5 linked regions of the Homo sapiens genome follow. The protein of the gene in region 4 purifies or fractionates together with the protein of the main gene of each other region. This does not show direct contact. Each region holds a gene or a part of one and is shown on either strand. Other genes may lie near its edges. The genes, in order: HDAC2, HDAC3, HDAC1, SAP30L and INSR.

Region 1 (3,520 bases), on a different chromosome or scaffold from region 4:
CAGCTAATTTTCTGTACTTTTTTAATAGAGACAGGGTTTTGCCATGTTGGCCAGGCTGGTTTCGAACTCCTGACCTCAGGTAATCCACTCACCTCCGCCTCCCAAAGTGCTGGGATTACAGGCGTGAGCCACCACACCTGGCCAGGATCATAAGCTTAATAGAACTCATTATTATGTGGGTTTTAAATCAATCCTGTTATGTTGTTTGCCCAAGGGCTACTCATGCCTCTTTTGCATCTAAGTTGGAATCTTCATTGAAAAAAAAAAAATTAAATACTACATGTTCTAGTTACATTGTAGCATTATAACAAATCAAACAAGATATGGCAGAAATGTGTATGAGGTTGTAAATATGAGATGTCTAGCACCTACACTAATTTAGTATAATCATCACTGAAGTCAGTCAATACAAACACTAATGAGAATGAACTTTGGTATCAAGCTTTAAAAGATACTGTTCCAATAATTTTAGGTTGACTTTTGCATTCTACCTTCAAGCCAATTTGTTACTAATCTCTAAAAATAAAATACTTTTAACCTGTACAAGAGAACATTACGTAGAATCAAAAGCTTCACTAATATCTTAACAAAGAAAAAGAGATGTGTATTATAGTCCAGGTTAACTGAAGTACACAAAGACAAGACAAGAGATATGTACATGCCAAGCTAAGGCTAATCAAAGTGTAATCTTGTTTTTGTTTTTTTGAAGCGAGGGAGTAAGGGAGTGAGGTCTCCCTACCAATATGTATTAACCCAAAGTTATCAGGGGAGCAAACTAGGAGTAGAAGAATACCCAAACAGCAGTTTTGCAAACCAATAAGCTTCAGATAGGTTTACTTTTTTCTTAAGTAGCTTTAGTAGTGTTAAAATGACTTTTCAAATCAGTAAATAACTGTAACATATTAGACCAACAGGAAAAATATTCAGATTTAGATCATTCTAAGCTCCTAAAAATACTAATTTACATTTATCAAAGCAAAACTACTTTTTACTTAGAAACGTACATCTCTGCATCTGCTTACTATACTCAGACATGTTATCTGGTCTTATTGACCGTAGAAATTTGATATACTCATCACTGTGATATTTTGTCATTTCTTCGGCAGTGGCTTTATGGGGCCTCTGTGAAGAGAAATAAATGTCAGAACTGTGGAATTACAACCGGTTATATCAGTATTATCAAACAAATATACAAATTCCCCTATCGGTCCCCTCAAAAGAACCAAGTCTACCAGAACAAAATATATAAATTCCAAAACTAACCCAAACTTATATGTGTTTTAGAAAACAGTAATCAATCTCAAAACTAATTCAAACTCCTTTAAAAGCATTACACAGGCATATCAACTATGATTTAATCACTCCTTATTTTAGTGGAAACAGTTCGAGTAAAAAGTCAAATCCATATGTTCATAAACTCTACTTTCTCTCCTTTTCCATGATAAAACATCCAGTGATTTCATCAATGAAATCACTCACTACAAGAGTTTTCAATTCTAAATCTTTGTTCACGACCTCTCGTCCTTTTTTCTATCCTAATCTTCCTTGTTCCGAAGAGCTCAATTTCACGTATGACACAATTCTTCCACAAGACTTCCAGACTGAGTCTTATTCTAACTTCCCCTCTTCTCTAAATGTCTACATGTAACTGAAAATAATTCACATATTCACATATATTGCCTAGCATTAATTGTTTTAAATATTTCTTTTCTCCCCAAATAGCTAATTGTCGTGTCTGTATTTGTTTATACATACCCTCATCTTTATCTACAAAAACATTAAGGCAGCTGTTGCACTTGTGTTATCTGTACTATGCTTGGCCACACTAACACAGTATTCCATATGTATTATATGCCCTGCAAATATTTGTGGGATTAATTTTATGTGTTATTATTTTGTAACAGTCCCAGGTCAACTCTTTTCAGCAGCACAGGCAGATTAACAATTATTGTAAAAAAAAAAAAAAAAAAAAAAATACTTAATATGCTACACTGAGTTGTTGCTATACTGAGTTGTTCTCCAGAACCATGAAAGCCTAGGGTAGGGGGAACTTTTTTAAATGGTTAAAGGAAAAGGAAAAAGAGGGTATAGCTCTCATTCTTATTCATCTCCTAAGAATAAACGAAAAAAGAAGTTTGTTTTCTTCCAGATCTTTTCATCTGCTAAATGCCCTCAAAAGGGGAATAATAGACAAAGTTTCACAGTAGCTAAAAAAAAATAAAAAAGATCAGTGCTGAATATGTATTAAAAGGAATACTCACATATATTTCCATTTTTCTGTATAAGCCATAATTTAACAGCAAGTTATGGGTCATGCGGATTCTATGAGGCTTCATGGGATGACCCTGTCCATAATAATAATTTCCAATATCACCTAAAATAGAAAAGACACAAACTAAACAATACAGACAAGAGACCCTCCATGAACTATTTGAATTTATGTATGTCTATCATTAGAAGGCATTTACTACTTAACAAAATTTATTTAAAACCTTAGCAACTTAGATTTATTTTGCAACTTTCAAACTGTATCAGATGACTAAGACGCTACGCACACTTTTACCAGCTGAAGACTCCATTATTACACATTATATTTATTTGTAGATTAAGGAAAGCAAGCTTTTCTGATTTTTAGCTACCCCCAATTTTTAAAATTTCTGTTCCTTGAAATGATGCCTGCTTTCTGTATTCTCTGGCAAATTCACATGCTTTTAAGTTCTCTGAGTTTTATTGGTATGATTTAAAATTTTTTCAGCAAATACTGCTTTTTGGATGATTTGCTGGCATTTCAGAAATCTCATAATTGGCGTTTTGCATGTTAAAACATACCGTGTCCATATTAAAGCCCATCAGGGAAGTTTTGGTAACTGAAATTTAGGTCCTAAATGAGGTTTTGCTCCACTAAGACACAGCATTACATTTTTCAAGGTAATAAAAATACTGTCTCATTCTTCATGACTAAAAAGTTGTAATTCCTAGCCTGTCTTTTTAAACGGCATCTTATATCACAATGTCTTTAAACTTATGCATAAGATTTAAAAAAGAGAAAATAACAAAATCACAGATTTTCATCAACTAAATTTCAATAAAATTAATACTTTTAGGTAAAGCTCCAGTGTTTCCTATAATAGTAAATAACAAGAAGCCTCTCAAATATATAAAGTCAACCCTCTGTATCTGTGGATTCAATCAACTGCAGACTGAAAATATTTTTAAAAAATAGATGGTGGTGTCTGCTGGAAACACGTAGAGACTTTTTTTCCTTGTAATCTTCCCCTAAATCATACAGTGTAACAACTATTTACACTGCATTTGCATTGTATTAGGTATTATGAGTAATCTAGAGATGACTTAAAGTGTAAGGGGAGATATACATAGGTTATATGCAAATACTATACCAGTTTATTGAAGGAACTTAAACACCCATGAATTTTGCTATCTGTGGAAGTCTTGGAACTAATTCCCCACAGGGTCAGGACAGTCAAGCTATTTTAATGGTTTGAAGTCTATCATTTCAACA
Region 2 (3,254 bases), about 13 Mb from region 4:
CCAGATGTTCAGACACTTCCTCACTCAGAAGGGATCGGGGGATATCCTTGGAGGAAGAGAGTTGCAGAGATCCCCAAGAGTCAGAGCAGTAAAGCCCAGGTCCAGAGGAGAGATTCGGAGGCCTGAATTCTAAGACAGAAGCAGATTCTAGAAGGGGCTGAGAAGCCCATCAGGCTCTGCAGCAGAGCCGGCTCAAACCTCTAACCCTGCGTGGGAGCAAGACAGCGTGTCCCACAAGTGTCCAGCTGTGGTTATCCCTCAGTCATGTAAGGAAATCTGTTCCCCATTAAGTGCATCTGTTTCTGCACTTCTTGGTTCTGTTGTCTTTCCCTTTCATTTTTCAGCAAAGTTTTGGGATTAAAAAAAAATTCCATCCTATCCTTTTTCCCCCCTAATTCATTCCATCTACAAATATTTTGTATGTATCTCAGAAAGATAAAGACTTTTAAAAAAAAAAAAAAAACATAACCACAATGCAATTATCCCACCCGAAAAAATTAACAGAGCAAAGAAATCAAAGAGCCTTAGAGAGTATTACGCAGGCAGTGACCTGTCCAGCTCAAGACCTGGAAAGACTGAGAAAAATGCTGGCAAGACTATAGGGTGCTACAGACTTTCTGGACGGCAATTTGGCAGCAAATATAAAAAATTTTAGGCCAGGCTCAGTGGCTCACGCCTATAATCCCAGCACTTTGGAAGGCTGGGGCAGGAGGACATTTGAGCCCAGGAGTTTGAGACCAGCCTGGGCAACAAGGCAAGACTCCGTCTCTACCAAAAAAAAAAAAAAAAAAAAAAAAAAAAAAAAAAATTAGCCAGGTGTCGTGGTGCACACCTATGATTCCAGCTACTCGAGGGGCTGAGGCAGGAGGATCGCTTGAACCCAGGAGTTCAAGATTGCAGTGAGCTATAATCATGCCACTGTACTCCAGCCTGGGTGACAGAATGAGACCCTGTCTCAAAAAAAAAAAAAAAAAAAAAATTAATGCACACAGCCTTTGACCTAGCAGCAACCATTCTACTATCTAACCCACTCAAACAAGAATGCAAAGATGTATAATGTAAGGGGGTTCATTGCCACATTATTATTGTAATACCAAAAAAATGGAAAATAATCTATCCACATAGTAAATTATTATACAGCTGATAAAATACTGAAGCAGATCTATATTAGCTAGCTGAAAACAGCTATATGATGTAAAGCAGCATACGTAGAATGACCCTATTTGTATTTACGAAAAACCAAAAACCACACAAACTGTAAATGAGTGTATATGTGTTTGTTTATATGTACATACAGAATAGTATATTTGCAATCTATAGAAAAAGGTCTATCCAAAACAATAAAAACTATTAACAGTGGTTACTCCTGTGGAATAGGTCTGGGATTGTGTGAACGCCAACACCATATTTTGGTGCTGTTTTAAAATTTTGCAATAAATACGTGTTACTTTTGTCATTAAAAATAACAAAGAAAAGAGTGAGGAAATTGTAGCAGACTAAAGGAGGTAAGCCAGAGGCAATTAAACTAATACCTTCCCATTTACTTTTTCCCTTTTAAACCTCCCCAGCAAGCCTATTGAAAGTAGGCTGAAGTCCCTGCTCCCAGACCTGCTATAGTTCTCCTCAGGACCCCTCTCCTCTGCATCAGCCTCATCAGTCCTGTCATAGGTCAGGAGGTCTGCAGGCACGTCATGAATCTGGACACTAGGTGCATGGTTCAGCATCTTCAGGTTTTCAAAGATTGTCTGGCGGATCTGGTCCAGATACTGGTTGGAAATGAGGAATACAGAGTGAGCAGTTTCCAGAGATTCCCAGGACATGGAATCTCCTAGCTGCCTTTTACCCCTACCATACTGGTTTTCATCTCAGTGGTACCTCTAGTTCAGGTCCCCCAACTGATAGCTCTCCCTCCCCACCAACCCCAACTGCCTCTACTTTAAACTGGACTGCCTCCTAGTCAATAACAGTGACTGTGATGGCTTAGAACTTCCTTCTCTTTGGTTTTTCCTACTTCCCACATCTTTGACCTCTCCTGGGCTCCACCTTTCAGGAGAAGTTTGTGCTCAGCTTTTCTGAGCTGCTGACCTGGCGTGAGTTCTGATTCTCGATGCGGGTGCTGACATCTGGATGAAGTGTGAAGTCTGGGGCAAAGTACTCGAAGTATTCTTGGGGAGGAGAGGAGAAAGTATGGCTCAGACTGAGAAAGGCAGCTAACAAGACTTCCCAATCTTTTTCCTTCCCATCCAGAGCACCTACATAATAGCTGCCCAATCTCTTCCCTGCTCTGAGCCCAGGGGTTTAGTCTGCAGAGCTCTGAGAGTGTAAAATTTCCCATGTGCCTTCAAACCAGGTCATTCTGGAATCTGGTGAGAATGGCCTTCCTGTTATGGGGGTGTTGTGGGGTGGTCCTTACCACTATAGGGAAGCTCCTCACTAATGGCCTCTTCTACCAGCAGCGATGTCTCATATGTCCTGAAACCAACCAGCAGAGGGGAGCAGGCTGACCAAGTGGGCTGAAGGACCCATGTGGCCATATCTGAGGGACACCCTAGCTCACACTGGACAACAGGGGAGGAAATCAGGAGAGTGCTCACCAGCAGCGGGCAACATTTCGGACAGTATAACCACCACCACCCAGCACGAGTAGAGGGATATTGAAGCTCTTGACATATTCAACGCATTCCCTGTTAAAAGGAACCAGAGGAAGATGTGGAGGAGGTTATCAAAAGACAAGGTAAATACCTTTAGGTATTGCCTGAAAGGAGCACAAGAAAACTATAAATGTTCTAAATCTTTATCTTGATAGTGAAATTCATTATGTTATACCCTTAAGATTTGGGTATACTTTATATGCTGTGTCTCAATAAAAATTTTAAAATAAAGCACAGTCCCCCCTCTGTTCTGCTCAACACCCTCCCTGGCACCCTGCCTGCTAATCAACTATTCTCATCAACCCAAGTTCTGTCAATTCTAGCCTTGAAAATATAACTCACGCCCGGCGCGGTGCTCACGCCTTTGTAGTAGTCCCAGCTACTCAGGAGGCTGAGGCAGGAGAAATGCTTGAACCCAGGAGGCAGAGCTTGCACTGAGCCAAGATCGTGCCACTGCACTCCAGCCTGGGTGACAGAGCAAGACTCCATCTCAAAAAAGAAAAAAAAAAACATATATATGTGTGTGTGTGTGTGTATATATATATATATACACACACACACACACACACCTCTCAGATCATCTACTTCTCTCCATTGCCACCC
Region 3 (3,520 bases), on a different chromosome or scaffold from region 4:
TCTATAACACTAGCCTTCTAATTGGTCCCTCTACCTTCAATTCACACTACCTGCCACACTGTCACCAGAGTTATTTTCCTAATCCACAATTCTGATAACATCACTCCTTCGCTCAAAAAATCCTTATGGCTCCCCATCCCCTACAGGATAAAGAGTAAAGAATAACTTTAATAGAGATAGGCATGGTGGCATGAGCCTGTAATCCCAGTTACTCTGGAGGCTGAGGCAGGAAAATCACTTGAGCCCAGGAGTTCAAGACCAGGCTGGGTCTCAACATTTAATAATAATAACTTCAGAAGACTGGCATTCAAGGACTTTCTTTTTTTTGAGACAAGTCTCGATCTGTTGCCCAAGCTGGAGTGCAGTGGTGCAATCTCAGCTCACTGCAACCTTCGCCTCCTGGGTTCAAACAATTCTCCTGCCTCAGCCTCTCAAGTAGCTGGCATCACAGGCATGTGCTACCATGCCTGGCTAATTTTTGTATTTTTAGTAGAGAAGGGGTTTCACCTTGTTGGTCAGGCTGGTCTCAAACTCCTAACCTCAGTTGATCCACTCACCTCGGCCTCCCAAAGTGCCGGGATTACAGGTGTGAGCCACCGCGCCTGGCCAGCATTCAAGGACTTTCTTTTACTTTATTTATTTATTTTTTTGAGACAGAGTCTCGCTGTGTTGCCCAGGCTGGAGTGCAGTGGCGCGATCTCAGCTCACTGCAAGCTCCGCCTCCAGGGTTCACGCCATTCTCCTGCCTCAGCCTCCCGAGTAGCTGGGACTACAGGCGCCTGCCACCATGCCCAGCTAATTTTTTGTATTTTTAGTACAGACGGGGTTTCATTGTGTTAGCCAGGATGGTCTTGATCTCCTGACCTTGTGATCTGCCCGCCTCGGCCTCCCAAAGTGCTGGGATTACAGGCATGAGCCACCGCGCCCGGCCAAGGACTTTCTTAATCTGCCTTTCCAGCTTCATCCAAGGACTTTCTTAACCTGCCTTTCCAGCTTCATCTCCTGCTACCACCCTTTCCCACAACACACACACACTCACTCTCTCTCTCTCTTTGCTCTAGACTGGAGTAGGCAAACTATGGCCCTTGGGACAAATACAACTAGTTGCCTGTTTTGGTAAATAAAATTTTATTGGAACACAGCCATGCCCATCCGTTTACAGTTCCTCTATGGCTGTTTTCACACTACAGTGGCAGAGCTGAGCAGTTTAGTTGCCACAGACACCCAAGCATATGGCAAAATAAAGCCTAAAATATTTACTATCTGGCCCTATATAGAAAAAGTTTGCCAACCTGTGCTCCAGACACACCAGATTATGATCAGTATCCTGAACATGACATTCACCTTCACACCACAGTATCCTCTGTGCAGACTATTCCTTTGACCTGAAATGTCCTCCTTTCTTTGATGATGCTCATACTACAAAGCCCACCTCAAGCTCCAAACCCTTTCTTGATCAAAATAAATGGTCTTTTCCTCTACATGCAATTTGTATACAGCACTTCATTAGTTTTCTTTTCTTTTTTTTTTTATTTCTTGAGACGGAGTCTCACTCTGTCGCCTAGGCTGGAGTGCAATGGTACTATCTCGGCGGCTCAGTGCAACCTCTGCCTCCCAGGTTCAAGCAGTTCTCCTGCCTCAGCCTCCTAAATTGCTGGGATTACAGGTGCGTGCCACCAAATCCAGCTAATTTTCATATTTAGTAGAGGTGGGGTTTCACTATGTTGGCCTGGCTGGTCTGGAACTCCTCACCTCAAGTGATATGCCCACCTCAGCCTCCCAAAGTGCTAGGATTGTTTTATATCTGAATTATTTACATGACTATATCCACAAGACTGGGTACCCCTTGAAGGCAAGGATTAATATGCCTTGTATATCACAGAGGCTCAATAAAGATTCAATGAATTGAATTGAGACTCAGAGAAGTTAAGTGCCTGCTCAAGATCACACAGCTAATGACTGATCTGGAGTCCACTCTTCGGACTCCAAATCCAATATGCTAAAAGCTACATTGGATTTTCCTTTTTTCTTTTTTTTTGAGACAGAGTCTCGCTCTGTCGCCCAGGCTGGAGTGCAGTGGTGCGATCTCGGCTCACTGCAAGCTCCGCCTCCAGGGTTCACGCCATTCTCCTGCCTCAGCCTCCCAAGCAGCTGGGACTACAGATGCCTGCCATCAAGCCCGGCTAATTTTTTTTGTACTTTTAGTAAAGACGGGGTTTCACCGTGTTAACCAGGATGGTCTTGATCTCCTGACCTCGTGATCCGTCCACCTCGGCCTCCCAAAGTGCTGGGATTACAGGTGTGAGCCACCGTGCCAGGCCCTACATTGGGCTTCTCAGGTACCTACTTCAGTTTGCACTTAATCTAGAGGGCTCTATAAGTCTACCTGATAGAAAATTCCTTGAACAATGTTGCAAAATCAAGTGAACTACACACCCAAAGATCTCTCCTTAGAGATTTATTAGGATGAGGCAGAGCTCTAGGCACCCAGTGAAAAAAAGGCATGAGCCTTGATCCCTAGCAACTCCCTTGCCTATCAAGCCTAGATCCAGCCAAGGCTCAGACCTGGGGGACTAAGATATCTTATCCAGAAGGTTAAGGGAGTATCTGAGGTGAGGGTAGTGAGGGTGGGGCTCTGAGACAGCATCCTTTTCTTTTTATGTTTTTTTTTGTTTGATGTTTTTGTTTGTTTGTTTGTAGAGATGGCATCTTGCTTTGTTGCCCAGGCTGGTTTCAAACTCCTGATCAGCCTTCTAAAGTGCTGGGATTACAGATGTGAGCCTCCAACAGTGCAGGCCAACCATCCTTTTCTTAACAGTTTTTAATTAGTTTGCCAACCCGTGCTGTGTGTATTCCTATACACATTGACAAATGCTATGACAGGGGAGCACACAGCATGAGGGACACTGTCCACTTCCTTAGAATTCCACCCTGGATCCTCTTCTATATAACTTCTTGGGTGACTGCATCCTTTATGATTAAATTTACTGTAATTAAAATAAAGATATATCTCTATATCTTAATCAGGTTGCTGAGAGACTTTAAAAGAAATGGTCCTTTTTATTTAGGTACTACTTAATTTTAATTTTTATTTTTGGAGACAGAGTCTCACTCTGTCACCCAGGCTGGAGTGCAGTGGTGCGATCTCAGGCTCACTGCAACCTCTGCCTCCCAGGTTCAAACAATTCTCCTGCCTCAGCCTCCTGAGTAGCTGGGATTACAGACATGTGCCACCACGCCTGGCTAAGTTTTGTATTTTTAGTAGAGTCAGGGTTTCACCATGTTGCCCAGGCTTGTCTTGAACTCCTGACCTCAAGTGATCCGCCCACCTCGGCCTCTCAAAGTGCTGGGATTACAGACGTGAGCCATGGCGCCAGCCATACTTTAAACTCTTAAAGAGCTTTCCCATCATTGTTCTCATAATAGGAACTCCTATCATTTTGATTTTATAGGAGAGAAATCTGAAATGTAAGGTGACTTGCCTGATATTACAAAGCTTCTCAATGGCAGAGCCAAATCT
Region 4 (3,520 bases):
CTGGTCCAGTCTACTCTTGTTACTCTTCACCATGTAGATGAAGTAGGCAAGGGTCTCTTTTTCATTCACAGGTATGTTCCTGAAGTGTCGACTCACAGTCTATGTGGGGGGAAAATACCAAAGTTCCTTAAACCATGCACAAATCACACCGCAAATTCTACATTGTACAAAGAAGCGAATGGAGTTGTTTGCATGCTGTGGCGGGAATGACAAATGCTGAAGAACTTCCTGCCATGTGCGGAACTCAGAGTGCCCTTTGCCCTTCCTCCCCAGGGATGTAGGTGGTTTAATTTCCAGGATCCAAAAGTGGCTTTTTAACCTACAACTCTTCCAAGGTGCAGTTCTATTTCAGTGGCAGCCAACCACCTGTCATGGCATGATTTCACAGTCATACTCATGGAGGAGAGACTGGGACTGCTCTGGTTGGCCAGCTGCTACCAAACCTCTCAGGCCTTGAAAGTGGGAAGAAATGTGTCTTTAAAAAATTGTGGGGCAGGCGTGGTGGCTCACACCTATAATCCCAATGCTTTGGGAGGTTAAGGTGGGAGGATTAGTTGAGGCCAGGAGTTCGAGACCAGCCTAGGCAACACAGTGGAGAACTCATCTCTACCAAAAAATTAGCCAGGTGTCGTAGCATGCACCTGTGGTCCCAGCTACTCAGGAGGCTGAGGTGGGAGGATCACTTGAGCCCAGGAGGTTGAAGCTGCAGTGAGCTGTGACTGCACCCCAGCCTAGGAGACAGAGCAAGACCTTGTCTCAAAAACAAATAAAAATTGGGTTAGGCTGGGGATGGTGGCTCACACCTGTAATCCTAGCACTTTGGGAGGCCAAGGCAGGCAGATCACCTGAAGTCAGGAGTCCGAGACCAGCCTGGCCAACATGGTGAAACCCAGCCTCTACTAAAAATACAAAGATTAGCCGGGTGTGGTGACAGGCACCTGTAATCCCAGCCACTCGGGAAACATGGAGAAGAATCACTTGAACCCGGGAGGTGGAGGCTGTGGTGAGCTGAGATCATAGCAATGCACTCCAGCCTGGGAGATAGAGCAAGACTCTGTCTTTAAAAAAAAAAAAAAATTGTGTTAAATGAACAGCCAATTGAACAAATTGAACAGAGGCATCTGAACCCCAAAATTCTTCTAAGTAGTGCATAACTGCCTCCTGAAAGACATATCAGGTTTGAAGGAAAATGCATCATTTACTAATGCTCCTAATACTTCATTCCATAAGTAATGAGAATGCAGGTCTCCTCTTGCCCCACCTCATTCTTTCCCTTCCACCAGGGAGAACACTGGCAAATGGGTGATGTTATTTTAAAGTAGGAGAGGCTTCTGACCTCCTGTGTGTCATCTGGACACTGGTGAAGGAGTTGTTTAAGAAAAAGTGACGGTCGAGCAAGAAACCTCTAAAGGAAAAACCAAAAATGAAACAGGCTGGAAGCCTTTCAGGAAATCTCAATGGATCAAGGTGGCTGAAACAGATAAAAAAAGACAGAGAACTAGACATAAAGAGTGGTTATCTCTGGATGATAGAATTATATTTTTCTTTTCTCCATTTTCCAACTTTTCTGTAATAGGCAGAAAAATATATTAAGAAAAGAGGGATTAGAAAATACCTGCAGAAATGACAAAGACAGAATTATCAAGCCAGGCAGTTCATGTATTTTAAAAATGGCCAGTGGAGCATTTCCCCGTAATCCAAACTGTGTTAATAACTCAGGGCAGGAGAAAACTTTCTTGGGTGCCATTCATTAAAATACTGTCATTACCAACACCAGAGTAGGAGAAATCAAGGAAAAAAAAATAGCTCCTGTAGAACATCAAGGTTTTGAAATGATTAATCTGACACACAAAATGATCATATCTAAAAAGCATTTTGCTAAGCCAGGCACAGTGGCTCACGCCTGTAATCTCAGCACTTTGGGAGGCTGAGGTGGAAGGATGGCTTGAGCCAAAGAGAATCACTTGAGCAACATAGTGAGGCTGCATCTCTATAAAAATAAAATTAGCTGTGCATAGGGGTGTGCACCTGTGGTCCTAGCTACTCTGGAGGCTGAGGTGGGAAGGATCACTTGAAGCTGGGAGGTTGGGGCTGCAGTCAGCCCAGACTGAGCCACTGCACTCTAGCCTGGGTGATAAAGCAAAATCTTGTCTCCAAAAAAACAAAAAGAGGAATCTTCCAAAAAAGATTCAAACAAATGAACACTCAGGACTTAGAATCTGGAGTCATGAGATCCCAGGCTCAATTCTGCTATCAACTTGCTGTGTGATTTTAAGCAAATCCTTTCCTCTTTCTGTGCCATGGTTTCTTTTCTGGAACTGAGGCCTTTGCAGGTCTAAAGCTGTGGGGTTCTAAATTGCCAAAGAGGAATACAGAGTTGCTTCCAGAACTCTGGAGGAAATTACAATTAGCAGACACACAAGGTAAGGGAGAATCAGGGTAACCATCAGAAGCAGCACAATGCTGGCTCTCTTTAGAGGGCAATTTTGTCTACCTACTTCTGCTAACTGGGCCTTATTGAAGCCTGGTCTGGTCTGCAACTTGTAGTGTCGTTTATAACGTCGTAGGGTGTTCACCTGCAGCTGGAACAGATCAACCTAGGGAGAAGAGGAGAAAAATGTTATCCATCACCTGACCACCCAGGACTCACCAAGAGCCCACTATGTGCCTAGCACTACACTAAGGTAGGGGTGAGGATGGGGAGGGCTTCAAAAGAGGTCTTAGAAATGGTCTATTGAGGACTAGTAACTGGCTAGGAGGGCAAAAATAACAGTAGAAAAACAGTTCTGGCTGGGGTGGGCTGATCTCACAAAACTGGTGGAAAAGGTAAAGCTTAAGCTAAGGAGGAGCAGGGTCTGATAAAGCACTGAGAAACGGTAGGGAATAGGGGAAAAGATCACAGCACAGAGAGCTGGGAGAGGCACAGATGGGCAAGGGGGTCACAGGCAACTGTGATGAATTTAAAAGGTGAGAATGGATGGTAGCACATCCAGAAAAACAGAAGGAGCTATCACAGAGGGTGGAGGGCGATGGCGCAGGATGGGTCTGGTGGTGGTTGTTGGGAAGACTGATGGGGGGATACGGAGGGAGATGCTATAGCAACAATCAGAATGAGATGAAGAGGCTGAGCTTTGGAGGGGCAGTGATGCTAGAAGGGACACCAAAGATGGAGAGCAAAGGCAAAAACCAGAGACATCCTGGAGGATGATAGGCCAGAACGAGGCAGCGACCGGATAGAGGAGCACAAAGGAGGGCTGTTATCCTCAAATAGCTCTTTGCTAGGCCCAGCCTTCTGGTATTAGAATCCTTAACCTCCCTCCAGAGAAAGTTCAAAAGTTACTGTAGTGAATGTGCAATCCAGCAGGTTAGGGCTGGGGTCTTTGCAGATGACTGGATAACAGAGGGGAAGGGACCCCCCCTTTTTGTTTCTAACAAAGGAAGAGAGGAAAGCTGCATAGTCATGAAAAATTGAAGGCCCATAAAGTTGGGCTGCCTTTACCTGCCTCTAAAAGAGCTGTTC
Region 5 (3,520 bases), on a different chromosome or scaffold from region 4:
TTAGCCAAGGAAGAGTAGAGAGCAGGGCTTCAGCACCCTGGGGGGCATTTGAAACAGCCCCATCACCAACTGAAAGCACAAAAATGCTAAAAATGTGGCACCAAATAACCACAAAAAGGACTCAGGTTTTTTTGTTGTTGTTTTTTGTTTTGAGTCTCACCCTGTCACCCAGGCTGGAGTGCAGAGGCACAATCTCGGCTCACTGCAACCTCCACCTCCTGGGTCCAAGTGATTCTCCTGCCTCAGCCTCCGGAGTAGCTCGGACTACAGGCGCCCGCCACCACACCTGGCTAATTTTTTGTATTTTTAGTAGAGACAGGGTTTCACCATGTTAGCCAGGATGGTCTCGATCTCCTGACCTCGTGATCCACTCGCCTCGGACTCCCAAAGCGCTGGGCATGAGCCACTGCGCCTGCTCAAAAAGGACTAGTTTTAATCCTCAGTGTGCAGATTGTATGAATCTGACGCATAAGGGCTGAAGCAAGAAGGTGGAATGCCCTCTTACTTGACCTCACATTTGAGACTCGTACTTATGAGTGTCCTAAAATGACCAGAAAGGCACTGAGCATGCTGGTTTGAGGGTTACAAATACATTTGAGTGAGTAGGTGAATTCAAAAATACAGGGTCTGGGGCCAGGTGCAGTGGCTCATGCCTGTAATCCCAGTACTTTAGGAAGTCAAGATGGGAGGATCACTTGAGGCCAGGAGTTCGAGACCAGCCTGGGCAACATAGCGAGCCCTTATCCCTGCTGAAAAGTTAAAAATTAGGCCGGGCACAGTGGCTCGCGCCTGTAATCCCAGCACTTTGGGAGGCTGAAGTGGGCGGATCACTTGAAGCCAGGAGTTTGAGACCAGCCTGACCAACATGGTAAAACCCCATCTCTACTAAAAATAAAAAAAACTAGCCGGGCATGGTGGCGTGCCTGTAACCCCAGCTACTAGAAAGGCTGAGGCAGGAGAGTTGCTTGAGCCCAGGAAGCAGAGGTTGCAGTGAACCCAGATCACACCACTGCAGTCTGGCCTGGGCAACAGAGTTAGTGAGACTCCGTCTCAAAAATAAATAAATAAATAAATAACAATAAAAACTAGCTGAGCATGGTGGTGTGTGCCTGTAGTCCCAGCTACTCAGGAGGCTGAGGCAGGAGGATCGTTGATGCTCAAGAGTTGGAGGCTGCAGGGAATTAGGACCACACCACTGCACTCCAGCCTGGGTATCAGAGCAAGAACCTGCCTCTCAAAATAAAAATTTAAATTTTAAATTTTAAAAAGAAAATATGGGATCTGGGAATGATGAGGATCAACCAGACTCAAATTTAAAATTTCAACTTTAGGAATATTAATCCAATTATAAGATAAAATCTTTTAAAGTCTAGAGAAAACTATAGGGATGGAGAACAGATCTGTGGTTAGGGGTGGAGGTGGTTTAGTGATAAAGGGGTGAATTGAGGGAGTTTGGACAACAACGAGACTGTTCTCTATCCTAATTGTGGCAATAGCCATACAACTCTACACATGGCTTAAAAATCATAAAATGGTACACCTTTAAAAAGCCAATTTTACTGTATGATAATGTTTAAAATATTTTGTTGTTGTTGTTGTTACACAGTCTCACTATGTCACCCAGGCTGGATGCAGTGGTGCAATCACAGCTCACTGGCGCCTCGACTTCCCAGGCTCAGGTGATCCTCCCACCTCAGCCTCCCTAGTAGCTGGGACCACAGGTGCTCACCACTGTATCTGGATAATTTTTTTGTAGGGTTTTGTAGAGACGGGGTCTTGCTATGTTACCCAGGCTGGTCTTGAACTCCTGGGCTCAAGAGATCCACCTGCTTCGGCCTCCCAAAGTGCTGGGATTACAGGAGTGGCCCCATGACACCTAGCCTAAAAAATTACTAAACATCAAAAAGATACATAAACCAATGGCACAGTTACCTCCCTGGACATGAATGGAATGCTTTTGGGGACAGGGGGACAAGATTTTTTTTTATTATTTCTTTTCTTTTTGAGACAGGGTCGGGCTCTATCACCCAGGTTGGAGTGCAGTGGCATGAATATGGCTTACTGTAGCCTCAACCTTCTGGGCTCAAGCGATCCTCCCACCTCAGCCTCCTGAGTAGCTGGGACTACCGGTACACACCACCATGCTCAGCTAATTTTTAAACTTTTTCTAGAGATAATGTCTCATTATGTTGCCCAGGCTGGTCTCAAACTGCTGGCTTCAAGTGTTCCTCCCACCTCAGCTTCCTAAAAAGTCCAGGGATTACAGGTGTGAGCCACTGCACCCCACCACAAGATTTTGCAGAAGGACTTCTGTGTTTTTTTTTTCCTTTCTACACTTTTGTAATTTTTCTTTTTGCAATGAGAATGCATTACCCGTCACTATTTAATTAAAAACTGTAAATACCATGCAGCTGCAAAATATCAACCAGGCCACCCCAAGAAGTATTCTTTTTTTGTTTGAGACAGAGAGAGGATCTCACTGTTGCCCAGGCTGGAGTGCAGTGGTACAATCACAGCTCACTGCAGCCTTGCCCTTCCAGCCTCAAGAGGTCCTCCCATCTCAGCCTCCCAAGTAGCTGGGACTACAGACACATGCCACCATGCCCAGCTAATTTTTGTTTTATTGTTAGTGGAGACAGGGTCTTGCTGTGTTGTCCAGGCTGATCTGAAACTCCTGGACACATGTAATCCTCCCACCTCAGCCTCCCAGAGTGCTGGGATTGCAGGCATGAGCCACTGCACCTGGCCAAAAATATTCTTTTTTTTTTTTTTTTTTGAGATGGAGTTTCGCTCTGTCACCCAGGCTAGAGTGCAGTGGCGCAATCTCGGCTCACTGCAACCTCCACCTCCCAGGTTCAAGCGATTCTCCTGCCTCAGCCTCCCAACTAGCTGGGATTACAGGCATGCGCCACCACGCCTGGCTAATTTTGTATTTTTTCAGTAAAGATGGGGTTTCACCATGTTGGTCAGGCTGGTCTCGAACTCCTGACCTCAAGTGATCCACCCACCTCGGCCTCCCAAAGTGCTTGGGATTACAGGCGTGAGCCACCACACCTGGCCCAGAAGTATTCTTAACAGAAATTAACACAAGAGAGGCCTGAGAGAAAAAAAAAAAATCTCATTATATACACCAGTTATATTTTGGGTTCTAGATACAGGGTTGAGAGCATGAAATCCTCATTCAATGCCAATATAGCTGTTTAAATAAATACACATGGCTAAGTAGGCAACATCACGGTGATTTTTCTCATCCTTGGAATCCGTATATTCAGTGCAGCAAATGACACACGTTTCTTTAACATCTCTTGCGGTGTAAAGAGAAAGACATAGCGTTTCATTTCACTCACTTCATTCGAGTTGTACCAGGGACTGCACAAGCTATTAGGCATGCTATCATGAATGAAACCTCAAGGCGTCTGTTCCAGATCAGAGGTCAGCAAACGCTGTTCTGTAAAGGGCCAAAGTGTAAATATTTTGGCCATGGAATTCCTGTTTTAACTACTCAACCTGCCGTGTCGGG

Evidence for each region.
Region 1: the proteins of SAP30L (region 4) and HDAC2 purify together in Homo sapiens (affinity purification with mass spectrometry; 3 studies listed by BioGRID and IntAct, with this or other methods). This does not show direct contact.
Region 2: the proteins of SAP30L (region 4) and HDAC3 purify together in Homo sapiens (affinity purification with western blotting, with the first as the bait; one study listed by BioGRID). This does not show direct contact.
Region 3: the proteins of SAP30L (region 4) and HDAC1 purify together in Homo sapiens (co-immunoprecipitation; 6 studies listed by BioGRID and IntAct, with this or other methods). This does not show direct contact.
Region 5: the proteins of SAP30L (region 4) and INSR purify together in Homo sapiens (co-immunoprecipitation; one large-scale study listed by IntAct). This does not show direct contact.

Annotation. Positions count from the first base shown.
Region 1 is NC_000006.12:113,957,645-113,961,164, forward strand, and holds part of HDAC2 (histone deacetylase 2), read right to left. Parts: intron 2,375-3,520; coding exon 2,262-2,374; intron 1,123-2,261; coding exon 1,005-1,122; intron 1-1,004. UniProt on the Homo sapiens protein: Histone deacetylase that catalyzes the deacetylation of lysine residues on the N-terminal part of the core histones (H2A, H2B, H3 and H4).
Region 2 is NC_000005.10:141,623,600-141,626,853, forward strand, and holds part of HDAC3 (histone deacetylase 3), read right to left. Parts: intron 2,685-3,254; coding exon 2,595-2,684; intron 2,473-2,594; coding exon 2,414-2,472; intron 2,166-2,413; coding exon 2,086-2,165; intron 1,767-2,085; coding exon 1,609-1,766; coding exon of another isoform or gene 1,521-1,608; exon of another isoform or gene 1,263-1,520; intron 1-1,262. UniProt on the Homo sapiens protein: Histone deacetylase that catalyzes the deacetylation of lysine residues on the N-terminal part of the core histones (H2A, H2B, H3 and H4), and some other non-histone substrates.
Region 3 is NC_000001.11:32,298,576-32,302,095, reverse strand, and holds part of HDAC1 (histone deacetylase 1), read right to left. Parts: intron 1-3,520. UniProt on the Homo sapiens protein: Histone deacetylase that catalyzes the deacetylation of lysine residues on the N-terminal part of the core histones (H2A, H2B, H3 and H4).
Region 4 is NC_000005.10:154,452,479-154,455,998, reverse strand, and holds part of SAP30L (histone deacetylase complex subunit SAP30L), read right to left. Parts: exon of another isoform or gene 3,500-3,520; intron 2,598-3,499; coding exon 2,499-2,597; intron 100-2,498; coding exon 1-99.
Region 5 is NC_000019.10:7,284,402-7,287,921, forward strand, and holds part of INSR (insulin receptor isoform Long preproprotein), read right to left. Parts: intron 1-3,520. UniProt on the Homo sapiens protein: Receptor tyrosine kinase which mediates the pleiotropic actions of insulin.